Linked DNA regions of Homo sapiens: regions 2 and 3 are each linked to region 1. The links come from fine-mapping of genetic effects on gene expression. A gene starts in region 1. Each other region holds a variant in brackets. All regions are shown on one strand. Distances are from middle to middle. Region 1 holds the start of PPP2R2D (protein phosphatase 2 regulatory subunit Bdelta). Region 2 overlaps PPP2R2D (protein phosphatase 2 regulatory subunit Bdelta). Region 3 has its middle 47 kb from the start of LINC01164.

The links.
Region 2: its variant is fine-mapped to the expression of PPP2R2D in tibial nerve (GTEx, PIP above 0.99). The same link has a PIP of 0.9 or more in Th1 cells, aorta, breast, esophagus muscle, gastroesophageal junction and ileum.
Region 3: its variant is fine-mapped to the expression of PPP2R2D in cerebellum (GTEx, PIP 0.95).

What each region holds. Positions count from the first base shown.
Region 1 is chr10:131,895,830-131,906,133 of GRCh38, reverse strand. It overlaps PPP2R2D (protein phosphatase 2 regulatory subunit Bdelta), which reads right to left and starts at 5,126. Exons shown (of 9, transcript NM_018461.5): 1 at 4,979-5,126; 2 at 4,804-4,896. The coding sequence starts at 4,985. RefSeq lists silencers at 4,317-4,366, 4,547-4,946, 5,017-5,526 and an enhancer at 5,767-5,866.
Region 2 is chr10:131,933,967-131,944,270 of GRCh38, reverse strand. PPP2R2D (protein phosphatase 2 regulatory subunit Bdelta) reads right to left here. Exons shown (of 9, transcript NM_018461.5): 3 at 9,716-9,813; 4 at 4,075-4,240; 5 at 3,577-3,689; 6 at 126-303. Among named protein-coding and RNA genes, the nearest start is that of PPP2R2D, 38 kb to the right of the region's middle. RefSeq lists an enhancer at 8,711-9,910. The variant A/G (reference allele first, on the strand shown) is at 6,118.
Region 3 is chr10:131,737,823-131,748,126 of GRCh38, reverse strand. No RefSeq gene overlaps it. Among named protein-coding and RNA genes, the nearest start is that of LINC01164, 47 kb to the left of the region's middle. RefSeq lists an enhancer at 4,828-4,927. The variant T/C (reference allele first, on the strand shown) is at 4,292.

The DNA.
Region 1 (10,304 bases):
GGAAAGTGACATCACAGGCAAAGGTGCTGCAGCACTTGCTTGACGTGCAGGTGTTTCACTTACTTACTGTCTCTGTGGTATCTACTCTTCAAATAGTTTGAGAATTGGTTGGAAAGTGATGCTATTCTTGAATCCTTGTTACTAATCTTCTATCATTTTGACACAGACTTCCTTTAAAGGCATTCCATTTTCATTTGCCTTCAAAAGCATTTTCACACGCCTCTTGGTAGTAAGATTTTCACCGAGCTTTAGAAGAACAGCTCCATCCCAAGGCTGGACGGCCGCATGCCACAGTGGGGCTTCATCAGTACTGTGCTGGCTGCAAATGGTCGCTGAAGCAGTACAGCGCTCCACGGCTCTGCGGCCAGTCGGCGTGGCTCCAAACCCTGGCCCTGCCATACACTCGCTTTGTGACCCAGGTTAATTGCTCCCACGCCTCGGATTCTGCATCTGAGACTGGGAAGAACAGTATTTCCTTCCTTCTTCGGTGGTGTGAAGATTCACTGACATAGGAAAAGCACTGCGAGCAATCTCTAGCACAGAATGACCACTCAGCAACTGTTACCTATCATGACCTTCGTGCTGGGTCCTCTACAAGGGCTGGGGTGGGAAGGGGGACAGCCAGCCTTCAAGCTTGAGGAGCTCAGTCTACCAGAGAGAGAAGCAAAGGATGAAATACCATGTGACATTGCAAAACACATCACATGCTGAATGAAGTACGTTCCAGGAGAGGGAGCAGGGGCTGGGTGAAGGTGATTCCATAACATGCAGAAAAAATCTGCACAACAGTTAACAATTTCCAGAAAGGAGCCACCGTTTAGAACCGCAACATCGTGGAATTAGAAGCTAACAAACAACTTTTCTACTTGCTTCCTGCTGGAAGCCCCCTGGTTTTACTATTTTAACTCTTGGTCAACTCAGCATATAAACTCACCTAGTCCCACCTTCCAGCAAAGGGAGGAGATGCAAGTCACCACTGACTGCTGCTTATACACCTGCTCATCAGCAGGACACTTAATAACTTCCTTGTGAGCTCAGCTCTACTCCTACCTGCAGGGGGATGGGAAGTCTGATGACCCAGTGGAATCACAACTCTTAGCAAAATGACCTGACCCATAGCTAAACCCAATTCTTTTAAAAAAAAAAGGGGGGTGGGGTGCGCATCAAATTTTACATAGGCCAGCACTTTCACCATAGGTTGATTCTGATTCCCCAGCCCAAAACTATTAGTTTTAAAAACAAAACAGAAATCAAAACAAAAACCAAAGGCTTTTCTATGTCACTCACTTCATGACCTCCAAAGTCAGGAGTGCCTACTCCTAGCCCTGCACCACTTCCTGTGCACTGGGCATCACCCCACTGAAGTCAGGAGAGGACCCAGGCCTTAATCTCTAAGGCTCCTTCTCCTTACCCATTGCAGAGAGGGCAGAAAGACGGCCAGAGTGCAGGGCTGTAGTAAAGCTCTACAGAGCTGAACTTGGCCCAGAACAAAACCTTCAAGAACAAAATGCCTCACAAGCCACAAATCTAAACAAACAAAATCTGCTATACCTTAAGTTCTACAGCCTGAGCAGCAGTGCACGATAAAAACCCCTGTGAACTGCCCATCTCTCTTTTTTTTTTTGAGACAAAGTCTTGCTCTGTCGCCCAGGCTGGAGTGCAGTGGCACGATCTCGGCTCACTGCAAGCTCTGCCTCCCGGGTTCATGCCATTCTCCTGCCTCAGCCTCCCAAGTAGCTGGGACTGCAGGCGCCCGCCATCACACCCGGCTAATTTTTGTATTTTTAGTAGAGACGGGGTTTCACCGTGTTAGCCAGGATGGTCTCGATCTCCTGACCTTGTGATCTGCCTGCCTCGGCCTCCCAAAGTGCTGGGATTACAAGCGTGAGCCACTGCGCCCGGCCATCTCTCTCCTTTTTTTTTTTTTTTTGAGACGGAGTCTCGCTCTGACGCCCAGGCTGGAGTGCAATGGCACCATCTCGCCTCACTGCAACCTCCACCTCCCAGGTTTAAGCAATCCTCCTGTCTCAGTCTCCTGAGGAGCTGGAATTACAGGCCGGCCCTGCCACGCCTGGCTAATTTTTGTATTTTTAGTAGAGATGGGGTTTCGCCATATTGGCCAGGCTAGTCTCAAACTCCTGACCTCAAGTGATCCACCCGCCTCAGCCTCCCAGAGTGCTGGGGTTACAGGTGTGAGTCACCGTACCCAGCCACCCATCTCTTATCTCTCACCAACATCTCTCCCTCAAGGTTGCGTTTGGGCATGACCAGCTTCTTGATCCTTGCTGCTCAGCAATCCCTGGTGACTAACGACTACACTTCCCTTCATCATCACTGACTCTCTGGTGTTAATACAAAGCAACGGTATCACAACTATGGGACAAATCGATGGTGACTTATAAATGTGTTAATCTGGATGGGTTACTATGGCCAAAGCATACATGGATTAAAATAGACAGCTCTGAATACACAGAATAACCAAAACACATGCAGATAATTACCACAAAGCAATGTTACAAAAGAAACCACGACAACTCGAAATACCAAACTTTTGGATTTACTCAAAATTTAACTTAAAATAGGGATTTAAAACTGCAAAAAGTTCCCATCAGTTTAATTCAGAGAACAAAGTATTTGTCAAGATTTTTTTTTTTTTTTTTTTTTTTTGAGATGGAGCCTTGTTCTATTGTCCAGGCTGGAGGGCAATGGCACGATCTCCACTCACTGCAACCTCCACCACCCGGGTTCAAGTGATTCTCCTGCCTCAGCCTCCCAGGTAGCTGGGATTACATGCATGTGCCACCACGCCCGGCTAACTTCTGTATTTTTAGCAGAGACGGGGTTTCACTGTGTTGGCCAGGCTGGTCTCAAACTCCTGACCTCAAGTGATCTGTCCACCTTGGCCTCCCAAAGTGCTGGAATTATAGGCATGAGCCACAACACCCGGCCCAAGATTTTTTTTAAAGAAAGAATACTATTTTCATATGTGTACAGTCACATTTAAAATATACTACCTTAGTTATACTTAAATTTTAATTCATTCAGCTTATCAATAATTTTTTTTTTTTTAAGTAAAGAAACCAGGCAGGTGCGGTGGCTCACGCCTATAATCTCAGCACCTTGGGAGACTGACGTGGGCAGACCACTTGAGCCCAGGAGTTCAAGACCAGCCTGGGCAACATGGCGAAATCCCCTACAACAATACAAAAATTAGCCTGGTGTGGTGGTGCACGCGTGTGTGTGGTCCTAGCTACTTCAGAGACTGAGGTGGGCGAATCGCTTGAGCCTAGGAGGCAGAGGTTGCAGTGAGCCCAGATCGCACCACTGCACTCCATCCAGCCTGGGCTACAAAGTGAGACCCTGTCTCCAAAAAACAAAATAAAGAGTTAACAGAAATTAAGGCAAGCATTAAGCCCTCTCACTTTCCTACTCCCAAACAAGTTTTGCTTTACTTGCGACAGAAATCACACTTGAGTAAGGCTGAACTGTCACTTGCTTAGCATATGCAAAATCAAACAAAAAAAGTAATGCATTTTAAAGAAATAAAATCAATAAACTTTTTAGATCACATAAAATGCACCTAGTTTTAATCTCAAACCATATATATTACGCATTTCTTAGAGCCCAGTTTCACCTGCTTAATAACCTAGGCCCTGTTTGTCCCAGGGGGCGCAGAATCTCCAGATGTCCTCAGGGGTCATGTGCCAAACCAGACACTGCCAGGGAGAGGTACAGGGTAGGGAAGAGGGAGTAAAAGTTCACGGGGTTGGGGGGGCCGAGATGGAGGGAAGTGAACAGGACGTCTGACAAGGGGCTTTTAGTAACTTGAGGCAGGGAAGGTGTATTTGGTGCAAACACCAATCATTTTTAAGAAAAGGTTAAAGGTTTACAATGTTCAGTAAGATGTATGAACAACAACAAAAAAGTCACTATGACTCTGAATCTGAAATATTAATCAAACTTCTAAGACTCGACCAAGTTCTCCATTCAACGGTGAAAAAGGAAAGCTACATAGCTTTTTAACTTTAAGGTGACAGGTAAGCTTCATGGGAAGCTGGGGTGGGAGGCACTTCCCAGTTCCCTCCCACCACCCTAAAACTTTGTGCCTGGGCCAATTTGAGAGTATGATTTAAGGAAAAGACCAGTGAACTTCAAGTAATACCATGAAGTTCAAGACTAAAATCTGGAATAGAGACCTTAAAATATATCAGTAGAGAAAGTAGCAGTACCTCACAGTAAAATTCAAGGATTTTAGAACCGCAGAAAGCAGACCTTAAGAATCAGGGAGCCGAGGCAACCAGCTCGCTCAAGAGCGCACCGCCGATGAAACGCAGAGCCTGGTGGGGGCCGAGGCCCCGACCCAGCCCTAGGCGCGTTCCCAGCCTCTGGGCCATTGTGCCGCGCTGCCCGAGCGCACGATATGGACTCCGTTCCCGTCCCCGGCTCCGCCGCGGTCTCCTCAGTTCCGCCCCAGGCAGGAGGCAGCCCCGGGCTTCGGTTCCGCCCCGGGCAGGAGGCAGCCCCAGGCGCTGGGTTCGGAGGACCCGGCCGCCCGTGACCTTGGTGACTTACATAAGTCCCGCCGCGGGCCCGACGCCTCCGCCCGTGCCCCGCGGGCCGGGACAGCGGACAGAGGACGGCCGCCCCCCGATCACGGCCCCCAGCTCGGCCCCTGGCCCCTGCCCCGCCCGGCCCCCATCCTCCTGCCTGCCTTCCACGGACGCTTGGGGCCCGGAGGCCGCGCGCGGCCGGGCTGGGAGCTGTCCGCGAGGGTCCCGGGGCGGGGCGCGGCGCGGGGCTCACCTTCGGCCACGTCCTCGTCGATGGCCCCCTTGACCTGCGAGAAGCACCACTGGAAGTCGTTGCCGCCCGCGGGGCAGCCGCCGCCTCCGGCTCCTGCAAACACAACGGGGCGGTCAGGCCGGCCGCGGCCCCCGCCCGCCCCCGTGGTCCCCGCCGGCCCGCGCAGACCCCTCACCTGCCATGGCAGCCGGCGGCGGGACGGGCGGGGACCGCGGCAGACCAGGGAGACGGCCTCCGCGCCGCTGCAGCCGAGCGCTCAGCCCCGGGGCCGCCACCACCGCCGGCGCCGCCGCCGCCGCCGCCGCCGCCGGGGAGGGATTTTTTTCCCTTTTCAAAATGGCGCCCAATGCCCGTCGCCCCGCTCGATGACGTCATCGCCCTCCGCCTCCTCGGACGGGCAGCGGACGGGGCGGGCCGCGGGGGCTGCCGGGGGCGCCCAATGCGCCTGCGCCCGGCGCCGCTCGGCTGTAGGGGGGAAGGGACGCCTGGGCGACTGCGGAGGGAAGCCGGGGTCGCCGGGCGCAGGCCAGCTCCTCGGCCCTCGGCCCTAGGCCTCCCGCAGTGGTCCGGTGTGCACCCGGCGCTCCCCAGAAGACTAGCGCCGCCGGCCGCCCCTACTCTCCGGGGACTCCCGGAGAGCCTAAGCTGCGGCCGGACACGCCTTCAGGGCGCCGCTTGGCCGGACACGCCCCCATCCCGCATCGGCCAATGGAAACGTGGGTTCTCCGTGGAACCGCCAATGGAGGACGCGCTTGGCGGCGGTGGGCGGGCATGTGGGCCGGCCTCACCTGAGCGCGCCGTACCTGAGCGCTGCCTCCCGCCCACTGCCCCCGACGCGGAGTCTCGCTCTGTTCCCCGGGCTGGAGTGCGGGGGCGCGATCTCGACTCCCTAAAAGCCTCGACCTCCTGGGCTCAATCCATCCTACTGCTTCAGCCTCGGAAGTAGCTGCGAGCACAGGCACGCGCCGCCAGGCTCGCTGATTTTTAAATTTTTTGTAGAGACGGGGGTCTATGTTGCTCAGGCTGGTCTCGAACTCCTGGGCTCGAGCCATCTGCCGGCCTCGGTCTCCCAATCCTGTCCACCTCCCTTTCGGAGCGCACCGTTGCTCACCAGATGGCTACCTTAGGGGTTCTTGGAGCTCCCAGTGCAGTCTTAGGGAAACAGGGCCGATCGTTTCATTTGCGGGTGGTTTTCTCTGGCATACTGAGCGATCATGGGTGCTCCTCGACTTACAGTGGGGCTACCCTCCCCGCAAATAAGCCCTTCCTAAGTCAAAAATGCATCTAATACCCAATCTACCCGTCGTAAAGTTGAAAAATCTGAAGTCGAGCTATCATCAGGGGGACTGTCCCTATGGGATTGATGTCCGGAATCAGAACTTCTTTCAGGGTAGCTGCGGTGGGCACTGATGGTATTGCACCACTAAAAGACAGTCGCTGCAAATCAGGAACATTCGTCCACTCCATTAATATTATTTATTGACAGCTCCTGCCACGTGCGGCACACTCCACAGCCCTGGGGGTGAGAGGTTAACAGAGCAGAGAAATCTCAGCCCTGGTAGAGCTTACCTTTCAGTGGGGGAGACAGACAATAAGGAAATAAATACATAATAAGTCGGAGCTGGAGAGAAAAATCAGGGAAGAAGGAAATGTGTATGGGGAGAGTTGGAGTCTTGCACGGGGTGACTGGAGAAGACTCAAGGATAAAGAGCAAACCATGCAGACGTCTAGGAAAGCTTGGCCAGGAAGGGGAGACCACCAAGTGCCAGGACAGGAAGGAGGGCCATGCCTGGCATGGGCAGGAGGCAGCCAGAAGCTGCGTGGGTGCAGAGTGAGTGGAGGGGAGGCCAGGGGTTGGAGTCAAGGCAGGGAGGTAAGTGGAGGAGGATGGACAGTGGGCAGGCCATTTAGGGGACTTGGACTCTGAATGAGATGGGCTCATGAACAGAAGACGATCGTGATGGACTTGGGCTTTTGGATGCTCTGCTGAGAATAGCTTGTGGGGACCCAAAGAGGGGAAGCAGGGAGACCAATCAGGTGGCCAGCTGGGCTGACCAGGCATGGGGATGAGGATAGAGTGGTGAACATGGGGTGGGGTGGTGAGAACCAGTCAGATTTCAGAGAAAAGTGCTTCGACAGCAGAGCCCCTGGGATTTGCTGATGGAAAAGATGCGGTGTGAGAGAAAGCAGGGACTTAGGAATGCCTGCTCTCGGGTGGTCTGAGCACCTGGAAGGATGGAGTTTCTGCAGCAGAAGGCACAGCTGGGTGGGGGCGGTGCAGCCCGACCAGAGGTTCGCTGTCAACACATAGTGCTGTTGCACAGACAGGCTGGGAGCACACAGGGAAGTCAGAGCCAGAGCATCAAGGTGAGAGCATTTAGAGGTCATTTCAAGTCAGGAAACTGGGTGAGGTCACCTCAGGAGGGAGGACAGATGGGGGACAGGACCAAGGACAGAGCCCTGAAGGGGTGAGGACGTGGAGGATGAGTGAGCAGCCTGCGAGGTGGGCTCCTGGAGAACCCATCTCCAGGATCCACTGAAGACAGGAGGGAGTGGCTGCTCTGTGATGCTATGTGATGAGTATACAGGAGTGACCATTTGGTTGTAGGGACTGGGAGGCCATTACTGACTTGGACGGAGCGGTGGCTATGGAATGGACTCAGATCACAAGTTTGCAGAGGGCTCTGGGGACAGTGGCAGGAGAGGAACTAGAGGCAGTGAATACCTACTTCTCTGTTGAGGAGAAGAAGAGCAGAAAAATGGGGCTGTAATCTTGTTTTTAAAATGTAGATTTAGCCTATCTGCCCAGGAAGACACTTGAAAACCTGAATTAATGACCAGATCTCTTTTATTTGTTAACTTAAAAACCTGACAATTTATAAATTTAGAAAAAGAGGAACTTTATTTCTTATAAATGGTTACAGCCAGCAAGGTGGCCATCCCCCAGGCCAAGATGGGAGATGGCTCTTCGTAGGAGGAGGAGTTGGGGCAGGAGCTCTATGCTGAACGGGTTGGCTAAACATACATAGACAACAGGCTTTGGGAGGAGCTATGAATACTCAGGAAGGGGCTCCTGACACGTGTATTATGTAACATAGGACCCAATCTCACTCTGTCGGGGAGACTAAACATTTGAATATATTACGACTGTAATCCCAGCACTTTGGGAGGCCAAGTCTGGCAGGTTACCTGAGGTCAGGAGTTCGAGATCAGCCTGGCTAACATGGCGAAACCCCCTGTCTACTAAAAATACAAAAATTAGCTGGGCGTGGTGGCGCCCGTATGTCTGTAGTCCTAGCTACTTGGGAGGCTGAGACAGGAGAATCCCTCCAACCTGGGAAGCAGAGGTTGCAGTGAGCCGAGATCGTGCCGTTACACTCCAGCCTGGGCGACAGAGCGAGACTCCGTCTCTAAATAAATAAATAAATAAATAAATAAGTAAATTAGGACTAGGCCCTGTACCTCAAGAGGTCTTTTCAGGACAGGAAGGCATGCAGATGTGCAACCTCTGTAAACCGGCCAGAACCAGTCCAAGGTCGGTGGTTTCTTATCAGGAGACAGTTACAGTCTTCTGTCCAATGAAAGCTGTAGTTACGGCTGCTGGAGCAGGGCTGGGGGTCACTTAGTGGCTGGTGGAGCTGCAGTTGCTTAATGTTGCTCCTATCAAGGCCAGTGCTTATTTAGCTGCTGGAGGGAAGGAAAACCCAACAGCAGTGGGAACGACGTTTTCTCTGTAAGTGTGCGGTGCGTGGCTTCACCCTCCCCCCGCACGGCCTTAGGCCCTGTTTATGATTTGGCATCTTACTGCCACAGAGTCCGTTCTGTCAGTCTTATGGTCTCTAGTTTAACGTTAACGCTGGTCTGTTGTGTCCAAACCACAAAAGGGCGGGGGTATCAGGAGGCCTGTCTGACCTCCCATCCCCCATTATAGCCTCAGTGTTGAGGTTTTCCTGGGGCCCCCCCTGGCCACAGGGGTGTTCGTTCAGCCAGTGGGGGATGTAGGATTTTATTCTTAGTTCCTATGTAACTGCTTTAATGTGTGTTAAATATGTCTTTTGAAGTGATGACAAGATAATTAGTTTTTGTTTAGAATGTATTTTCTGGTTCATTAGCTCCCATTAAATTAAACTAAAAACAAGATATAGCCACAAAAGTAACATATTCCTGAGACTGGGGGGCTGCCTTCCCTGCGTCCCACTGTGCATCAGCTGACCAGCAAGAGATTTTTAACTATTTTTTAAAAAGAGATTTTTAACTATTCTTCTTATGATGCTAAAAACTTAAAATATTTGGCTAAACCACAATGACTTTTGCGCCAACCTAATAGCTCAATGAATTTCTCTGTTTGGATTCTAATTGGTGTTTACAAGTTTCTGAGTATTGACAGCAATTTTATTTTTTAAAATTGTTTTTCAGATCTCACAGCTGAATTGAAAATGCCTGGTGTGTATTAGAATCTAGCCTATTGTAATCATAGAAGGCAGTACTGTTCAGTAACTAAAAGGCATGAGCTACTACTGATACAAACAGCAGTCCCAAATGAGTCCCCGAAATATTACGAAAATGAAAGGAGCCAGACACGGAGGCGTGCAAGCTGCATGCGCCCCTTTATTTTATCATACTTAGTCTCATGTGTCAATGTAGCGAGGGTATAGTATGTAGTTATTTCATCAGAACTAAGCCAAGTATTGCCACGAGGGTGTTTCGTGGATGTGGTTAACACCCACAGGCAGTTGACTTTGAGAAAAGGAGATTACCCTTGATAATATGAGTGAGCCTCATCCAATCAATCAAAGGCCTTCAGAACAAATACTGAGGTTTCTTGGAGAACAAATTCTGCCTCCAGGCTGCTGTATCAGCCCTTGCCTGAGCTAGCCTGCCGGCCTGCCCTGCTCACCCTGTGCACCCTCTGTTTTTGAACTTGTCAGCCTCCACAATTGTGTGAGTGAGTTCCTGAAAATAAAGCTCATTCCATACACGGTTTCTCTGAAGAATCCTGAAGTTCTAGAACAGGTGAGACTGCTCTACAGTGATTTTAAAAATGGCACAGGGGCTGGGCGTGGTGGCTCACGCCTGTAATCCCAGCACTTTGGGAGGCCGAGGTGGGCAGATCACAAGGTCAGGAGTTTGAGACCAGCCTGACCAACATGGTGAAACCCCATCTCTACTAAAAACACAAAAATTAGCCAGGTGTGGTGGCGCACGCCTGTAATCCCAGCTACTCAGGAGGCTGAGGCAGGAGAATTGCTTTAACCTGGGAGGCGGAGGTTGCAGTGAGCCGAGATCGCGCCACTGCACTCCAGCCTGGTGACAGAGCAAGACTCCATCTCAAAAAAAACGGCATGGGGCACGAGTGTGGGGATTGACTGGAGAGGGTGGGGGATGGACTGGAGAGAGTGGGAAAGAACTCCCTGGGTTGATGGAAGTGTTCTGCATCCTGATGGCCGCAGCTGTTAATGCAGCACGAATGGTTGTCAAGACTCATTGAAAAAGACACTTAA
Region 2 (10,304 bases), 38 kb before region 1:
GCTGCTGTGCAGTGATGGTATTTACAAGACTAGACTCCGAGATACAGGTGTATAAAGGGACGAGAGAAATTACTATCTAAAGAGCACCCTCGGGAAGACGCCAGTGTCCCTCTGAGGAAGGATACTAAAGCTTCTATCTGTGATTTCTAAGTGCCATAAATTAATTCTCAGGTCATCTGCAGAAAGATATGTTTCATGATCACTATTTACTGAAATGGAATTTATATGATATGTGTGAGCATTTGCAAAAATTCGCCGTGGACTCGCTTCTACCATAAGATCCATGGGCTTCAATATTGGGACCTAAAAATGGAAGGAAATAGGAATTCAAAACAAAGATCACAGCAGCACATAATTAGAACACTTATAGTAGATAACGAAAGAGGACAAGTTTATATTCATGGCTAAGTAATAATTCTGTACAGGCAATACCCCCAAATAACCAATTAGCAGAGTTATGAAAATATGCTACAAAATGGAATACTGTCTATTCCAAGTCTTCCCCTTGCTTCCATTACCGAGGTCGACATGTTCCTGCTGAAGAGAAGATCAGCTGGCAGGGTAACAAACTGCCCAGGCACCGAGGCCTGCGGCTCCCTCTCCTGTGTGTCCTCCAGTGGCCACACTGAGGCGCTGGACAGCAAAGTCCTCCTGGGTGGCTCAGCTGCACCCCTCCCTTTGTCCTCTCCTTGCAGCTAGATGCACACACCTCTTCTCACTGCACTAGGACTATGCTTCTCGGTGCAAACCCCACAAACCTCCACTGGCTCCAGGTACTGGCAGGGTGCACAGCAGGGTGCTGGGGAGCTGAGGATATTCCATTTCTTGGTCTGGGGCTGGCTACATGGGCATGTGCACCCTACAAACATTCATGGAGCTGGTCACTTATAGGGCAGATGTCTTATCTGGAGGTATGTATTATATATTACACTTCACTTGAGGTTAAAACAAAAAGTAGAAGGTACCTCCCGCCCCCATCTCTGTGTTGAGTGCTGTGGTCAGGGAGGCTTCCTAGGGAAGCCCAATTCGCACAGAAATAGAAAGGACAGAGAGGAGTGGGCGCTGGCTGCAGGCCGCCTATGGTCAGAGGTGAGAGCTCAGGCGTGAGGAATAGCATCACACATGAAAAAAGGAAAAAGGCCTGTGTCTCACTAACATCCAGCTGGAAGAAAAACATAAGCTTTAAAATCAAAACAAAAAATTAATGATAGTATTTTTTGTTATTCTTGTAATTAGAAACCAAAAGGGAGAGCCTTGAAAGCTTAGGGGAAAAAGAAAAGCTCTCAACTGAGTCTTGTCTGGCTGAATTCTGTAAAAAACCAACTTGGAAAAGTGTGTGTAGGGAGGCTTCCCTCATTTTAACCCAGGTAGTGCTGACCACACCCTTGGATTCTCTAGAGCAAGAAGAGTCAGTTCTACCAAGTTCAGGCTTAAAAACACACACCTACCCCAATCCTCTAACAAATTTCCCATTAATCAAAACATATGATAGCTGCAATACTTACAAAGATTCCTTCTTTTATTGAAAACATTTTAATTTGCATATAAAATAATTTGCTTTCATTTTTAGAGATGGGGTCTGGCTATGTTGCCCAGGCTGGTCTTTGAACTCCTGGGCTCAAGTGATCCTCCCATCTCGGTCTCCCAAAGTGCTGGGATTACAGGTATGAGCCACCATACCTGGCCAAGATTTCTTCTTTTAATTATATCCCTTTTCTGGCACTAAAATAATTTAAGAGCAAAAATTTAAAAACAGCAACATGTCTGACTCTTACCCAGTTAGGCTCAGATACATAAATAGCCCACTCTGAACTGTTAGAGAGGTAAGATCTCAAATACCGACCTAAGTCAATGTACAGAATTACCTGTCTGTGGTCTCTTCCCCATGCACCAACTAATGAAATAACTAGACTTCTCACACACCTTCAGTAGGGCCACCAATTATACCCGTTTTATTTAGGCTAAACCTACAAAAGCAGCCTTGAATAAAACCAAGACTGGGCCTAGTAAAGGCCTACTGTTCTCCCAAAATGAGCACGTGAGCTGATGGGTTGTGGCAGGGTCTGATCAGGAGGAACAGGGGTTTCTGAGGGTGGGGTGTGCACAGGTAACTGGGTGGGAGGTGGTGTTGGCTGCAGAAGAGATGGACAAGGCTGGAGGGGGTCAAGTGCCCACCCTCGGGGGTCCCATCACACTTCTACTTTAGGATCAGCAGTTTCATGATGATGGAACTGCACAACTCGTGTTACTGTCACTAAAAGTGATTTACACTAATTCAGGGGTGCAAAGGCGGCAGCACTGTGTATCAGACATCACCAACATTTTGGATCAAAACATCTTGGTTCAAATTAGGACCCTATAAACTAGATTTTCAGCAAATGCCACAGCCTTTCTCGCTTTGATGAACTCATAGGAAATACGGTGACAACATCGATGTGAGAAGTCTGAGGACACTCCTCCTGAGGAATGCACAACCCCAGGTGTAGCCACCCCACACGGCAAAGCTGGAGAAATGGCATCAGAACAGACCCAACATCACTCCCAGAGGCACATGTGTTAGGGAAAGGCTTCTGCGGTACAGCGTCCTCTGTAGCACTCTCCAAGACTAATGTGGAATGGGCTCACTCACTCAGTCTTCACTTGATAAACAATAGTGTAAAAGGGGCTGAAATCTCATTAAAAACCAACCAAACCACCCAACTCAACCACCCACCCCCCGCAACCAAACCACCCAACCACCCAAACAACCAACGGTTTTCCAATCTAGTAACGGCACCCCCTTGGGACCAGGCAGAGTTTCCTTCCAGGGGACACACCTCTGCACAGGTGCTGGTTTCTCACCAAGACACACCTGGGCTCGAGCCCAGTTTGCCGGACACCCTTCACCATGTTCCATCTAATTTAAGACAACATCAGTGGTGCGTAGCACCAGGCCAATTATAAGACATTGAGGTTTTGAGTTTTAGCCGGTTTCATAAATGTTAAAATATGAAAAAATTTAGGCATCAGAATTGATGAAATATGATCATTTCATACTACCAACAATGGAGCAAATAATTTAACAATTAAAAAAGTAATGATGCTCATGGATGGACAGGTGGAGAGTTCTGAACCATCAGCATCTGCCTAAACCAACCCCAAAGAAATTCCCCGAGAAGCGTCCTGAATGTACCTGTGGCCCACAGCTCATCTTTCGACCTGCAACCTGTGCTACTGCACCTGTGAGGTGTTCTGAATTTCATCTGAACTCCAACCTCCCAGGTGCTGTTCTGAACCTTCTGAGAGAAGGGTGGTTGCTATGTCCACAAAGATTTCTGCTGTAGAATTAAATATGAGTTTTCCCCTTAGTATTGCTGTGTTTCCTAAGGACCACATGTGACTTTCTGCCTTTGTGAAAACAGGAGAAAGACCTTGCTTTTAAACACACACATGAGTGCAAACGACTTTCAGGAATCACGAGGCAGACCTCACAGCAGACCTCACAGTACTCCACCGCGCAGCACTCTCCAGACAGCAGACTGAAACGTTTATTCTTAACTTCTCAACAGCATTGGATAAAGCAAAGGCAACGTGTACCCGTAGCGCCGTGATCCTAAATGGGTCTCGAAGTCTTCCATCTTCGTCTTTCAGGTTATAACCTTCTGCTCTTTTATCCCGTTCACTTATTTTCCATAATTTTATAGTTTTATCTGAAAATAAAAACCTCATTCTCCATATGAAAAGAAAAACTATAACATGCATCACTACTGTTTGAGTACTGGTATTAGAAAGCGGTGTGGTCCTATATTGGGTTATAAGCTATGGGGTCTCTGAACATGAATATTTCCAATTGGAGGTGTTTTGTACAATAAAGAAAGATGTGCAGACGTGCAGAGTAACAGCATAATAAAGTGCACGTGTGGTTTTTGTTGCATACTTTGAATTTTCAACCTATCACTTGCTACCCTAGATAACTTACCCTCCCCCCAAAATTTAAAGCAGGAATAACTTCTAAAATAAAAAGGAATCTACACACACACAGAAAATTAAAAATAAAAAACTAAATCAAACAGCCACTTAGAACACAATTCTTACCATTTGTAGACAGTAGAAAATGAGCAGCATTCTGTTGTGGTAACCACCTAATTTTATTAATTTTTTCCTCAATTTCTAGACTTTTCAAATAGTCAAACTCCGGTTCATGACTTTGAAAGGTGCTGTAAACATTATATTCTCCCCTAGAATGAGGGCGGCTTTTATTCTGCAAGGAAACATGAGAGCTGTTTTAATGAACAAAGCACAGTGTAGAGAAAATTTCAGTACTATAAATTTGAATATCAAATGACCATACATATTTTTTAAAGCTAAAAAATCCTGGCTCAAAAAAATCTCAGATGAAACTCAGGGAAAAAAAAAAAAAAAAGAACGAACTTGATTTCCGACTCTTCGACTCCACTTCTAGGTATGCATCTGGAGCAGGTCTGCCGAATGCAGCCTTGCTGTATTTTCTGGAGCAGGTCTGTCAAATGCAGCCTGCCGTATTTTCTGAAGCAGGCCTGCCGAATGCAGCCTGCCGTATTTTCTGGAGCAGGTCTGCCGAATTCAGCCTGTCGAATGTAGCCTGCTGTGTTTTCTGGAGCAGGTCTGCTGAATGCAGCCTGCCGTATTTTCTGAAGCAGGTCTGCCAAACGCAGCCTGCCGTGTTCTCTGGAGCAGGTCTGCCAAATACAGCCTGCCGTATTTTCTGGAGCAGGTCTGCCGAATGCAGCCTGCCGTGTTTTCTGGAGCAGGTCTGCCGAATGCAGCCTGCCGTGTTTTCTGGAGCAGGTCTGCCGAATGCAGCCTGCCGTGTTTTCTGGAGCAGGTCTGCCGAATGCAGCCTGCCGTGTTTTCTGGAGCAGGTCTGCCGAATGCAGCCTGCCGTGTTTTCTGGAGCAGGTCTGCCGAATGCAGCCTGCCGTGTTTTCTGGAGCAGGTCTGCCGAATGCAGCCTGCCGTGTTTTCTGGAGCAGGTCTGCCGAATGCAGCCTGCCGTGTTTTCTGGAGCAGGTCTGCCGAATGCAGCCTGCCGTGTTTTCTGGAGCAGGTCTGCCGAATGCAGCCTGCCGTGTTTTCTGGAGCAGGTCTGCCGAATGCAGCCTGCCGTGTTTTCTGGAGCAGGTCTGCCGAATGCAGCCTGCCGTGTTTTCTGGAGCAGGTCTGCTGAATGCAGCCTGCCGTATTTAAGGCAAGTGTTAGTGGAACACAGTCAGGCCCATGTGTGCACATACTGTCTCTGGCTGCTTCTGCACCATCTGGGTAGAGGTGAGTGGTTGTGAAAAGGCCGCATGAGCTATAGAGGCAAAAATGTTTGCAATCTGGCCCTGGAGAGAAAGTGTCTGCTGAGTCTGCTCTAGAGGAGAGCCAGCACGGGCCTGAGGAGCGTGACACAGCGATGTGGCAGCTCCAACACAGTGGTAGTGAACCAGACGCCACACATATGCCAACCAGAGGCGAAGGGCAACAGTAAGCCACAGGGCCATGCAGGGACCACCACGAAGCCGCTGAGATAAATGAGCCAGCACAGACAACCGCACAGTGCTGCACAAGTGAAGCAGGCTGCACAGGTGCCCAGAGTGAGGTGCTGCTTACGTACGTACAGAACAAGTCTGTTACAGAAGTGGAGAAACATGCTTGGGAAGACATATGCCATCTTCAAAATCATGAGCAACTCTGGGAAGCTAGAGGGAGAGTGAAAAAGACCAGGAGGAAAGTAGCAGGCTGAAATGGGGAGGGGACAACAGGAGCTTCATCTGTATCCCGAGCATTCTCCTTCCTTTGATGAAGGGATAACCTCTGGGTGGTGGGTTTGCAGGTACATCTATATTAACCTCTGAATCTTCTGTATGCCCTAAGTGAAATTTTCTATTAAGTATTAAATATTTCATAATTCAAAATCAAGGACGCCAGTACTTTCATTCTTGCTCTATAACCAATATCTAATATCTTAGGTGTTTAACACTTTAGTACATATGCTAAAGGAATGGAACTAAACGAACTTTCAAGTCTAAACAGATGTTCCTTGATATTTCCAATCTGATCAAGTATCAGGAGAAGACATCCCAAGAAGCTACCCACACCCGCACTGCTGCAGAGTCC[A/G]ATGTGCAGGGCATTCCTTCCACCGAAGCCTCCACGGGCAGAAGCTGAGCGCCTCGCCTGCCCCGCGTCGCTGCACTGAGTCTGACGTGCAGGGCATTCCTTCCACCGAAGCCTCCACGGGCAGGAGCTGAGTGCCTCGCCTGCCCCTGTCCGCCGCACTGAGTCTGACAGGCAGGGCATTCCTGCATTCCTTCAACCGAAGCCTCCACGGGCAGGAGCTGAGCGCCTTGCTGCTGACTGCCCCGCGTGTGCTGCACGGGGCAGATGTTGAAACTGTTCTCCTTTGACCCTCTCCTACCACTCTACAAAAAAGCACAGCCCCTCAACAGACAGTTCTATTTCAAGGGAGAAAAGTGGAACCAAATTATTTAAAAAGAAAAATCTGTATAACTAAATTAGTCCTATGCCCAAGACATTCATCTACCAAGAAAAAACAGCGGAATAGAAGCAAAAAAATAAAATGTCCAAGTCAAAGTGCTGCCTGCACTGCCCTGGCCTTTCTCCTAAGAGCCAGAACAAGAATGGTCCCTAGGCTGCAGGCTTGTCTCTCTGCCATGAACGGGTTCCAACTCCCATCCCAGTCACCCCAAACCCAAGCAACCCCTCAGCCTTCTCCAACACTCCCAGATCTCATGGAGTGCCGCTCTGCTAGGAGAGAATTCTAAAGGAAGCCTCATGGGGACACGGGCAGGAGAGCAGGGAAGTAACACACAGGAAGAGGAGGAAGCGAGCACCTTCTCTTTTTGGACGTGCTGATTTCTGATTTCACCTGATTCCTGGCGGCTAGAGCTGAGCCTGGAGGGCAGTGGGCCGCACAGCCACACCCATACGTTCTGTGGGCCTTAGTTTTATTGGCTGGGCTTTCCTGTAAGACTTAATCTGCACAGAAAAGTAAGAAAAGCTTGAAACTCAAGGTGCTGACTATGCTTCCCACCTCGTCTTCTGCACAGCCAGAGCTTCCCAACGGGCCTCTATGGACCTGACTCCTGAATCTCAGGCCCTGCACCTTCCACAATCTGGTGCTCACTCACTAGCCTTCCGAATCCTCCACGCTCCTTCGATTCTAAGACGCACACGTGGACGCCTGTGAACCTTGCTGCAGCTTCTAACTGGGAGCTGGGGTCGCTTGATGGGCAGCAGCTTCACCCTCTTGGCGGCTGCAACACCATCCGCGGCCTCCGGCCATGGATGAACACGTGCACTGCCGCCCTTACCCACAGACACACTCAAGTCCACAGGGAAGGGCACATGGGGCAACCAGCCGAATGCTCTAAAATGGATGGACCGTGAAAGCCTTTCAGACGTGAACCGAAATACGAAGAAAAAGAAAAAAGGCTGCCTGGGGTTTGTCAAGTTGCAGCTGGCTGAACAACTTCAGTAGGGACTTGCTCCTGTATAAATCTGTCACTCACATAACAACTTCATCTTAAAAAAGCACTTAACACTCTATAATACCCAATATCTTTTAGAACGAGATGCTTGACTTTTATCAGGGTTTGTTTTATATTTGAGACTATTATTATTTAGGTTAAGCAACGATTCACAAAAACAAGAGAAATTCCATTTTCTAACCTAAAATCTGTTAGGCAGGGATGAGGCATCTTCCCTAAGGCTATCGCTACAATGACAGACTTTTTAAATAAGCTAAAAGTGAAGTCTTGCATTAAGATAGCCATGACTCAACAATTTGTTAAAAAATCCTCCTGCTGGCCAGGCGTGGTGGCCCATGCCTGTAATCCCAGCACTTTGGGAGGCCGAGGTGGGCGGATCACCTGAGGTCAGGAGTTCAAGACCAACCTGGCCAACGGTGAAACCCCATCGCTACTAAAATACAAAAATTAGCTGGTCGTGGTGGTGCATGCCTGTAATCCCAGCGACTTGGGAGGCTGAGTCAGGGCGAACCACTTAAACCCGGGAGACAGAGGTTGCAGTGAGCCAAGATCACGCCATTGCACTCCAGCCCAGGTGACAGAGCAAGACTCCATCTCAAAAAAACAAAAACTCCTCCTGCTTTAAAAGTAACATTTAAACACCACAACCCACTTTTACTTCTGTTGAGAAAGGTAAGGTGTATGGTTCTTTTTTTTTTTGAGATGAAGTCTCACTCTTGTTGCCCAGGCTGGAGTGCAATGGCACGATCTTGGCTCACCGCAACCTCTGCCTCCTGGGTTCAAGCGATTCTCCTGCCTCAGCCTCCCAAGTAGCTGGGATTACAGGCATGTGCCACCACACCCGGCTAATTTTGTATTTTTCGTAGAGACAGGGTTTCTCCATGTTGGTCAGGCTAGTCTTGAACTTCCGACCTCAGGTGATCAGCCCACCTCGGCCTCCCAAATTGCTGGGATTACAGGCGTGAGCCACTGCGCCTGGCCAAGGTATATGGTTCTTAAGTAGCATTGTGTGATATTCTACTTCTGAGATAAAAATGCAAAATTATAAATGTATCAAACTGTGAAGAAATATTAACGATATACTTATTATTCACAAAAGGATTTCTTACCATCCCAAATCAGAGAAAACAGGATTTAAAAAAATCTTTAACTACCTGGACATAATCAAAATAAAGCTGCAACAGGTATGTTTTGATAATGAAATTGGTTAGCACCTGTCAATTTTCCTCATGTGGCCCAGGGACAGTCCTCCTCCAGGCTCCCCTTCCTGGGGGGCAGGGCCAGCACTTCCTGTGTACAGATCTGCAGAGAGGGGAACCAGGGCCCACCAACCTCTAAACCAAAGTTCGTCACACAAATTTAGAGACCAGACTTTGGAGATGATAAACTGTCCCTTTCATCTGTTAGGAAACTCAGAGACAGGAAGGGCAAGGGACTGTATTTATAAGGAAAAGGCAGGACAAATATTTCAGACCCCAGGCTTAGCTGCACAGAGCCAGGGTTCTTGCCAGGAATCCTTGACTACCAAATCATGATCTTGCTTCCTTTATCACTGCTCATTAGGACCTCTGAGGAGGCTCAACAGAAAGAAGAGGGAGGGGGCTGGCAAGGCATCAGTGAAAAGGCAGTGCCGTGACCGGGAAGCCAGTGCTTGCTTATGAGCTGTGGGCTCCTCCAAGGCCCACACTCTGAAGGTTCCCTTCCCTCCAGACAGGTGAAGCCTTCAAGGGGGCATGGAGGAGTGAGTGCTGCTCACCTCTCCCTGAAGGGAAGAGAGAATTCACACCCCTGCCAGACTTCTCTGCAGGAAGTGCTGAGAAAGCTGCTCACACTTCATGGCAGGGCAGGACGGCGGGGCTGGGCCAGTACCTGCATAGGCGTATAAAGGGATTTTCAGAGAGAGCCGCGTGAGTTCTTATGGAATGAAAGCACATAAATGCACCTCACCACCACCCTGCATCCTTCATGGGGTCCCCAGCGGAATCTCCTCCCTACTCTGAAGACAAAGGCCTTGGAGACTTCACCGGGGCTCAGCAGCTGAGGCCAGAACTTAGATAATTTCTGAAAGGAGATTCTGTATGGCTAATGTGATGGAACTGAATCTTAATGAAATGAGACAATGAGAAAATAATTTTGCTTCCTCCCTTCTAAGTTATATGCGAAAGGTTGAATAATTGCATTTGATTTGTGGACTGAAAATTACTGACCTCTTGTTCACGCTGAAAAATAACAACTCTGCCGCCCTTGTCTCCTGTTGCAAGAAGATCTCCAGAGTAATTAAACTCAACGGTGGAAATGATGTCCGCTGTCAACAAAATACAGAAGCGATTTACCGGATGCGGTTTTGGGGAGGAGTCACAATACCAAAAAATTAATAAAAAAGAGCAAAAGGACGATAAACATATACAACTTTCTCCGAGACTAAAGCAAAACTGTCTTGGCAAACTTGTAATTACCAAGTGGCCACTTATTGGTTCTGGTGCAGAGAACCTGCCGGCACAGGTGAATGGGCGAGTTTTACTCCACCCCCATGCCTGGGCCCCTGGAGCACCAGGATTTATCTAGACTAGGTTGTCTTGATAAAAGGATAAAGGGTAGAAATTTAGAAAATTCATCTGTAAAAGAAAAAAATAGAGGAAAAAAATGGGTCCTGAAGAATGTTGCCTAATTTTATAATGCATACCTAATGTTAACTTTTAAAATAAATCTGATTCTTATATAATAGTAATAAAAATGTTGTTAATATTCTATGCAATAACTTTTGTTGGCTTCTGTACAATGTAATATTCTAGACAG
Region 3 (10,304 bases), 160 kb after region 1:
GAGGGGTGCAGTGTGGAGCTGGAAGCCGGGGAAGGGGAGTGTGTTTCAGAAATGACAGGCAGTTGAAGGGGCTAAAGCGGGAGGCTGGGGCCTGTGCGCACGGAGGCCCGGGAAGGAAAGGTCAGATGCTTGCCCATGTGGCCCCATCAGAGCCCCGCCCGACCGTCTTATTGGACTCCACGTCTGGACATCTGCTCTAGCCCAGACCCTGGCTTTGTCCGGAGAACCCACAGGGCACCTGGTTCAGCGTCCCCACCCTGGGGCCTGACCATGGGGCTTGAATCCCCAGTCAGCACCTGTGCCCTGTGTGAGCTGGAGAAAGTGAATCAACCATCCAAGCCCACAAGCTTGTCATCCTCATCCCCACTTCACAGATGAGCAAATGAGGGCACAGAGCCCGCCATGAGCGCCCTGTTAGATGTCAGCTGCCTTCCTGGTTTAGACTTCCTGAGTTGGGTTTACCATTTCTTAGCAAGTTATTCAAACTTGACCACCCCGTCTGTACGTGGCTGAGCCACTCCTCATTCGTGGCTCTGACTGCCACGTTAGCCTTCATTTCACCCCATGGTGGCCTTGTGTATGGCCGGATCAGGAGGTGCGTCCCCTGGCTGGCCACTCACACGCTGTCCCAGCGGCATCTTCCCTCCCTCTCCAGCCCTTGGATTCCATTTCTCTTTGATGGGACCTTCAGCCTCAGCTGGGGACAGTGTTGAACACTGGAGGATGCCGCTGAGGGCGGTGGGTGTGGTGGCTGGGCCCGGAGGCCGTCGGGGCAGATGCTCTGAAAGCCCCCAGCAGTCAGCTCCTCCTGTCCCGGTGGAGGAGGCAGTGCTGATGGGTGACGGTTGCCCGTCCCTTAAGAGAAATGGGAAAGTTCCTCAGAACTCTCATTAATATTGTAGGGCTGTAAAAGAAGATATCTTTCCCTGCTCCATCCCTAGGAAGTGTGTGGGTATCAGGGGCCCTTTCTGTTCTGTGGGCCGTGACCACTCATTGCAGTTCCAGGCCCTCAGTGAGTTCAGTAATAGCAGTGGCTGGGGATGACCAGGTGAAACCTGGTCTGCTTGGTCACAGCATGTAGGAGGATGGGAGAAGCAGGAGGGGGAGCAGGGGGAGGAGCAGGAGGAGGAGCAGGAGAAAGTATAGGAGGAGGAGCAGAAGAAGGAGCAGAAGGAGGAGCAGAAGGAGGAGCAGGAGGAGGAGGAGCTGGAGGAGGAGCAGGAGGAGGAGGAGCAGGAGGAGGAGCAGAAGGAGGAGCAGAAGGAGGAGCAGGAGGAGGAGGAGCAGGAGGAGGAGCAGCCCTGTCTCCTCCCAGAAGCTCTGTCCCCAGTGGTGGGCACATGGTCCCATCCCCCCCAAGCCCTGTCCACAGCTTTGGGCACACGGCCCCTTCCCTTCCCCCCAGCTCTGTCCCCCACGGTGGGCACATGGCCCTGTCCCCTCCCCCCAGCTCTGTCCCCAGCAGTGGTCCAGGGTCCTCTGCCAAGGCCGCGTCCCAGTGGGGTTCCGGGGACAGGTTCTTCACCCACGAGTCAACGTCCCGGGCAACCCTGCTGCAGCCCCCGTGGGAAGTCAGGGCTGAGGGGGCCTGTGGGGTGAAGCCGGCAGCCCCTCTTTGGCTTGGGGGGTGGGGGGCGGAATACGAAGCTGAACATTCCTGAGGATCTGTTCTGGATGCCTGCAGAGAGCCCTGGAAGCCCAACCCATGGTCACACATCCTTCAGGGACCAACCCGCCGCACCAGGTGGCTGGAGAATGAGACCCTGTGTCTGCCGCTCCCCCTGCCGCAGGGCACACAGTCCCCACTGCACCGGGTGGCTGGAGAATAAGACCCTGTGTCCGCCGCCCAAGGCTCCCCCCGCCGCAGGGCACACAGACCTGTGATCCAGGCCAGCCCATCCTGTTGGAGCCACCTCTGTATGTATCCATATGTGTGTGTGGGAGTTGTGTGTGTGCTGTTTGTGCATGTTATAAGTGTGTGTCTGTATGTGTTGTGTTGTCTGTGTATGTGTTGTGTGTTGTGTGTTGCGTGTGTGTGTGTGTGTGTGTGTATAGGTCTTTACGCTGCCTACATCTTGAAGGCATCTCTTGACGCCAGGCCTGACTGGGCTGGGATCTGCCGACGACACTGCCTCTTTTCTGGGCTAGGCCTTCTTTTCTGTCAGGGCTCACAGTGGTAGCTCCTTCCAGGCAGTCCTCTGTGGTGCCCGGGCTGGGTCAGACACCCCTCCTTCAAGCCTCCTGGTACCTCACCTCTGTCCACCGTGGCCCTGCAGAGGAGCCACACCCTGCCCCGCCGGCACTGCAGCCTCTGCCTGCCTCTCGCCCTGAGCGAGCACCCTCTGCCTTAGCACCTGCTCAGGGAGCACGGATGAAAGATGAGTGATGGGTGAATATGTGCAGGAAACGCACTCCCGCCGCTGCCGAGGCATCTTCCCGCAGGCTGGTGAAGCTTCTTCTCTGTCTTGCAATTTGTAAACTCTGCTGTTCATTGACATTTGTCTGTCCTTTAAGATCAATTTAAAAGTTTCATCTAAATTCACATTCATACTTCATGCCTCAGAATAGGGACGTCTTTTTGTTTCTAACTGTTAGGAACCAAAATGGTATTGGGAGAGGCATGAGCTTTGATCACGCTCCCTATGCTTAATTCTCACTGGTTTTAATGTGTCTCTCAAACATCTGGTCCCACGTCCTGGGTTTTAAGTTAAGGGAATAACAAAATCACTGCAGGCAGCCTCCTGTGCTCCCGTCCTCCCATGCCCCTGTGCTCCCAATCTCCCGGGCTCCTGTCCTCCCATGAGCCCATCCTCCTGTGCTTCCGTCCTGCAGTGCTCCTGTCCTCTTGTGTTCCCATCCTCCCGTTCTACCATTCCTCCTGTGCTCCCATTCCCCATGCTCCTGTCCTCCCATGCTCCCATCCTCCAATGCCCCCTGTGCTCCTATCCTCCCTTCTTCCTGTGCTCCCATCCTCCTGTGCTCCTGTCTTCTCATGCTCCTGTCCTCCCATTTAGTGTCCTCCCATGCCCCCTGTGCTCCCATCCTCCCATTCTCTCATCCTCCCATGCCCCCTGTGCTCCTATCCTCCTGTCCTCCCATGCTCCTATCCTCCCGTCTTCCTGTGCTCCCATCCTCTCGTGCTCCTGTCCCATTTAGTGTCCTCCCGTGGCCCCTGTGCTCCCATCTTCCCAGGCTCCTGTCCTCCCAAACTCCTGTCCTCTCATGCTCCTGTCCTCCCGTGCCCCCGTACTCCTGTCCCCCCAGGCTCCCATCCTCCCGTCCTCCCATGCTCCTGTCCTCCTGTGCTTCCCATCCTATTACCCCAAAAATGTATCTTCCTGGGAGACTGAAGGTGAAGCGTCTGTGACGAGGCTTGATGAGTTAAATACAGATGTTTACTTCAAATTTTAGTGAAAGAGTGGAGGTCTGAGGAGTGTTCTCCGCAGGGAAAAGCATTCCTGCTCTGCAGTCGGGCAGGCTGGTGCCGAGCCTGTTTCCCACCTGTCTCCTTCCAGTGGGGGATGCAGCTGGGACGGACCCCAGGCCTCCGCCTGAGCTTGGCTATGACGGCATCCTCTCTGGACCACGCAGAGTCTGAGGCCCTGCAGAAGAGGGCCCAGCACAGATCTGGCACTGAAGGGGTGAGAGCTGAGAAGCATCCATGTGGACGTGTCCCAGGGGTTCACCAGCTCATGACTCCAGCACCCGAGTGGGTGTGTCACGAGAGTTCACAGGCTCATGACTCCAGCATCTTTCAAATGTGATGATGGTGGCAGGAAATTGAGAGTAACGTAACCACGTGTCCAGTTGCTTTGAGATAAAAGCACTGCTTTAAGGAATGTAGACATTATTAAAAGAAAAAACAAACAAAACAAAAGAAAACACGGTCTAGCCGGTGTCCTGAGCATTGTTTAAACGGAAGAAGAAAGAGAAAGCAGGTAGGATGCGAGAGAATGTGCAGATGACTTTCCTTTCAGGCCGGGCAGGGCCGCCAGGGTAGGCTGCGTCTGGCTGCTGAGCCAGTGTTCTGCGCAGGACGGCAGCGAGTTGGCCAGGGGGCCCCAGCTGCCCTGGCTCCTGCACAACCAGCCTCTTCTCGGGAACTGCAGCTGGAGAAGCAACGGGGGCCCCTGCATGTCGCATCTTCAGGGGATTTTCTGTGCTGTCCGTTCCCTGGGTATTTCCCAAGCACTTCCTCGGTGGAAAACAGACATGGGGTCCGCAGCCCTCAGTGTAGGAGCTCTTGGACAAGGTCTCTGGGCAGCAGCAAGAGCCTGTCAAAGCAAGCCCA[T/C]GCTCGGCTCACTGTGCAGGGCTGTCTGGGAGATGCTGGCCTGGCTTACATGCCCTCCACCAGAGGCCTCCCCGCCTGCTGCAGATCCCTCCCTGCCCCATGGCGACTTTCAGAAAAGGGGAGCGGTGAGGTAGCCTTGACTATGCTGAGATGGGCCCTTAACCCCCCAGTGAGTGACCTCTGCCGGCATGGGCGGCCTGGGGCACCCACAGCCCAGTGTGCCTTCCCCATGTGAGTCTGGGGTAGGAGAGGCTGATTGCAGGGACAGGAAGCAGCTGTGGCCCCTCTCCTTCCCTCCCTCTCTGCGTCTCCCACACCCATATGCGCTTAGGAGGAAGGCAGCCCCGTGGCTGATTTGGGAGGGCTGGTCCTGCATCCTTGTACAGCAGTGGTGAGCAACTCCCTGTGGGGCAGGGCTGTGGCTTTCCACAGTTCCCCGGGGGGCTGGTAGCAGGGGAAACCCAGTGCCTTCTTTATTTAGCTCTGTTTTTGGCTTGAGTTTCCATGGAAACCACGGGTAACTGAAAACACAGGCCCATGAAAGTTTCCGAGTGATTGTTATTTTAAAGAATATGGCTCCTCTTTCTTGCCCACATTCAGATAGCAGTTTCCATGGGAACAGAATTGAAACTGCCAGATGAGAGGGATCCCCATTTTGGCCATGTCCCTGGCTGTCTGTGGAGGGGAGGCTGTGGAGGAAGGGAGGGCAAGGGTGGGGCCGTGGTGGGGGAGCCCAGCACCCCTTGGCTCCTTCCTGGACATGGTTCTGCCACTTCGGGAGGAAGGGGCTCCAGGATGAGCCCCGATCATTGGTGATTCTCCTTCACTGTGGTGGCTTTCAGTCTTTGGGGAGGGTCCATGATGCCAGAAAAGGGCGAGAAAATTTTCAAAGAAGTTTTATCCCAAAGTGCACTGGGTGCTGGTCCCCAGACCCTCCCACAAGGACCTGCCAGGCCCACAGGGGCCCCAGACGTGCCCCCAGCCCAGAGGCCGTGTCCTCACAGGGAAAGCCAGGTGGGGGGAGCACAGTGTTCGCCAGGCCTGGAGGGGCCCCAGACGCGTGCCCAGCCCAGATGCCGTGTCCTCGCAGGGAAAGCCAGGTGTGGGGAGCACAGTGTTCCTCTGGGCACAGCCATCATCAACCCAGCTTGGAGGAGACGTCCTGAGGCCCTGGAGGTTAAGCTGCTCGTCGGGGTCTCAGTCTCACAGCTGCGAAGTGTCCCTCGGCCTCCGATCCTCAGTGCCGAGGGTCACTCAGTGCCGAGGGTCACTCAGTGCCGAGGATCCCTGTGCCTGTGCGATGCTGCAGGTGGGAGGTGCTGGGGCCCAGGATCTGGGAGAGAGGCTTCCTCATGGGCGCCTGAGACTTTTCCAGGCACTGGGGGTAGAGACATGAGAAGCAGCCTGGCGAGGACAGGGGTAGAGCCTCACACTTCCCAGAGCCCCACACCCACACACTCCTGGGTGTTTGTGCGTTTAGCTCACATGCCCTCCTTGCCCGAAACCCCCTGACCCCAGATATGCCCACCTGGTACCTGGGAATGTGACCTTATTTGGAATAAAGGTCTTTGTAGATGTAAGTAAGTTAAGGATCTTGAGGGACTATTCTCAGGATAGACCATATCTTAAGCCATAAAACAAAACTCAGTATATTTTATTTATATTTATTTATTTATTTATGATGGAGTCTCACTATGTCACCCAAGCTGGAGTGCAGTGGCACGGTCTTATCTCACTGCAACCTCTGCCTCACCAGCTCATGCAATTCTCCCGCCTCAGCCTCCCAAGTAGCTAGGATTACAGGTGCATGTCACCATGCCTGGCTTATGTTTTTTGTATTGTAGTAGATACAGGTTTCACCATGTTGCCCAGGGTGGTTTCTGCCTGCCTCAGCCTCCCAAAGTGTTGGGATTACAGGCGTGAGCCACTGCACCAGTCCTCAGTATATTTTAAAAGACTGCTTTCATGCAAAGTATCTTCTGACCACCATGGGATAGAATTAGAAATCAGCAAAAGAAGGAAATTTAGGAAATTCAAAAATATACACAAATTAAACAGCGTATTCCTCAATAACCGGGTGTCAAATGAGTCACAAAGGAATCAGAAAATGCTTTGAGATGAATGAAAATGAAAACAAAACATACAAAAACTTACTGGATGCAGCTAAAACAGAGCTTTGAGGGAAGTTTGTAGTTGCAAACACATACTAAAAAAGAAAAAAGATCTCGAATCAATAACCTAATCTTTACCTCAAGAAACTAAAAAAAGGAAAGCAAAATAAATCCAAAGCAGACCAGTTGGAGGAAATAATAATGATTAGCGTGAAAAGAAATAAAATATAGAGTATAAAAACAGTAGAGGAAATCAACAAAACCAAAATTGGTTATTCGAAAAGATCTACGACAATGACAAGCCTTTAGCTACATGGGCAAAACCTAAAGAAGGAGAAGGCTCAGATTAATAAAATCAGATGAAAGAGGTGACATGAAAACCAACCTCATACCATCCTGGCTAACACAGTGAAACCCTGTCTCTACTAAAAAATACAAAAAATTAGCCGGGCGTAGTGGCAGGCGCCTGTAGTCCCAGCTACTCAGGAGGCTGAGGCAGGAGAATGGCGTGAACCCAGGAGGTGGAGCTTGCGGTGAGCCGAGATTGTACCAATGCACTCCAGCACTTCCAGCCTGGGCGACAGAGCAAGACTCCGTCTCAAAAAAAAAAAAAAAAAAAAAAAAAAAGAAAAAAAAAAAAACCAACCTTATAGATATAAAAAGAATTATCCAGTAATCCCAGCACTTCGGGTGGCCGAGGCAGGTGGATCACCTGAAGTCAGGAGTTCGAGACCAGCTTGGCCAACAAGGTGAAACCCTGTCTTTACAAAAATACAAAAATTAAACAGACATGGTGCCATACACCTGTAATCCCAGCTACTTGGGAGGCTGAAGCAGGAGAATCACTTGAACCAGGAGGCAGAGGTTGCAGTGAGCTGAGATTGTCCCACTGTGCTCCAGCCTGGGAAATAGAGTGAGACTCTGTCTCAAAATAAAATAAAATTAAATTAAATAATAAAAAGGATTATCAGGGTATATTACGAACAACTGCATGTCACTACATTTCATAACTGGATGACATGGGAAAATTTCTAGAAAGACATAAACTATGAAAACTGATCCAAGAAGAAATAGAAAATTGGCATAGGTTTATAACAAGTAAAGAGAGAGATTAATTTTTAAAACTCAACGATACAGATGCGGGATAGAGAGCATGTACAAAGATCCCGCAGCACATGTCATACTCAATGGTACAGAAGTGTGATACAGAGCATGTATGAAGATCCTGCAGCATGTGTCATACTCAAGGGTAGAGATGCATGATAGAGAGCATGTATGAAGATCCCACAGCATGGTACAGATGCATGATAGAGAGCATGTATGAAGATCCTGCAGCTCGCGCCATAATGGTACAGAAGTGTGATAGGGAGCATGTATGAAGATCCTGCAGCACGCGTCATACTCGATGGTACCAATGCATGATTGAGAGCATGTATGAAGACCCCACAGCATGCGTCATAATGGTACAGATGTGTGATAGGGAGCATGTATGAAGATCCTGCAGCACGCATCATACTCGATGGTACCGATGCATGATTGAGAGCATGTATGAAGATCCCACAGCATGGTACAGATGCGTGAAAGAGAGCATGTATGAAGATCCTGCAGCACGTGTCTTACTCGATGGTACAGATGCGTGATTGACAGCACGTATGAAGATCTGGCCGCATGTGTCACACTCAATGGTACAGATGCGTGATAGCATGTATGAAGACCCCACAGCATGCGTCATAATGGTACAGATGTGTGATAGAGAGCATGTATGAAGATCCCACAGCAGGGTACTGATGCATGATTGAGAGCATGTATGGAGACCCCACAGCATGCGTCATAATGGTACAGATGTGTGATAGCATGTATGAAGATCTCAGAGCATGTGTCACACTCGAAGGTACAGATGCATGACAGAGAGCACGTATGAAGATCTCACAGCACACATCATAATGGTGCAGATACATGATAGAGAGGATGTATGACGATCCAGCCACATGCGTCACACTCGATGGCACAGATGCGTGATGGACAGCATATATGAAGATCCCAGAGCATGTTTCATACTCGGTGGTACAGATGTGTGATGGACAGCATATATGAAGATCCCATAGCATATGTCATACTCGATGGGGGAGACCGAGTATTGGGGGAGACCCCCAAGGTCTGGAGTGAGACATGGGTGGCACTGTGGATATGAAATGTCCAGAACAGGCCAATCCCTAGAGACAGAAAGCAGATTAGCAGTTGCAGCCTGGGGGCTGATGAAGGAAATGGGAAGTGACTGTTGCTGCGTGGGGGCTGAAGAAGGGAACGGGGAGTGACTGTCGCCTCGTGGGGGCTGAGGAAGGGAACGGGGAGTGACTGTTGCTGCGTGGGGGCTGAGGAAGGGAACGGGGAGTGACTGAGGAGGGTATCGGGTATCTTTGGGGGTGATGAAGATGTTCTAAAATTAGACAGTCGTGATGATTTTGCAACTCCATGATTACACTCAAAACCACTGAACTGTACACTTTTAAAAAGTGAATTTTATGGTATGTGAATTATGTCTCAATAAAGCTGTTAAAAGAAAAAAAAATTAAAAAAACAGGCCAGACGCTGATGCGAGAAATCAAGAAGGTGGTTACCTGGTGGGGTGGGGGTGGGGCAGGAGCGCGGGGTGGGGCAGGAGCGCGGGGTGGGTGGGGTGGGGCGTGAGCCTGGGTTTGCAGGGGTGGGGCGTGAGCCTGGGTTTGCAGGGGTGGGGAGCGAGCGTGGGGTGGGTGGGGAGGGAGCATGGGGTGGGCAGGGTGGGATATGAGCCTAGGTTTGCAGGGGTGGGGCAGGAGCGTGGGGTGTTGGGAGTGGGCAGGGGCGTGGGTTTTGTGGGGGTGCCTGGTTAGGTTCCATCTCTTGGTGTAGGTGCTGGTTACATGGATGATTTGGTTTGTGAAAATCCAATGATCTGCTCACTTATGATAAATGCACATTCTATTCCAGTAGAGAGTTTTAAAAGGAAATAAAAGTAAACGAGCATGGCCAGGCTCACGTGGCAGCATGGGGTGGGGGTCATGGCTGCAGAGGGACACTGTGCACCAGAAAGTGAGGTGAGAGCTGGATCGTTCCCCATCCGGGTGTGGCACTCGCAGTGAGCTTGCGTGTTGAGGGTGGGCTATGATGGTGGGGGAGGTACCTCCAGCCAGATTAACTTGTGCATTTCCCTCAAGGCTCGCTCAAGGTCGCCTCCTCCTTCCAGCTGCGTTCTGGGGCTCCCAGAGCAGCCCAGGTCCCTTCCTCAGCCCTAGGGTGCCTCAGGCTCACACACTGCATGTGCGCCCGGCCTCCTGCCTGCCCACTCCCACACCTGTGAGTTCCTCCATGGAGGGGCAGTGTCTTGCTCAGTGCTGCGTTCTCAGCACTTCGCAGGTGCACAGATGTTTGCTGATTGACTGCATGAACATGCTGCTGTGCATGATGGGTAATGAAGCCACAGCCCTCACACTCAGACCCTCCTCCCAGCCTTGAAGGACGGTGTCCATCCTGTGGGGCCAGTGGGCGGTGATCTTGGCCCCTGCCACCCTCTACGTTCTGTATGGAGCCCAGGCAACTCTCAGGAGGAAGACAAATGCCAGGTGTTGCTCTCTGTTTGCCCCTTTGCCCCTCTCCATGGGGCAGCCGGCCAGCCTACCTGGTCCTCGGCCAGCACAGGGCTTGTGTGCAGCCCCCAGAGGCAGGGCCGGGCCCTCTTTACCCCAGCCCGTCCTTTCCCCAGGCTCTGCATCCCGTCTCCTCTCAACCTTTCTGCCTCTGCACTTGCACTTGGCAGATGGGTTGAGATGTCTTCCAGGTCCTTCCCATGTGTGCCATGGGGGGGTGTCACTGGTCGTCTCCTTTCACTTAGCAAAGACAGGCACCTCTCTGCAGCCTCCCCA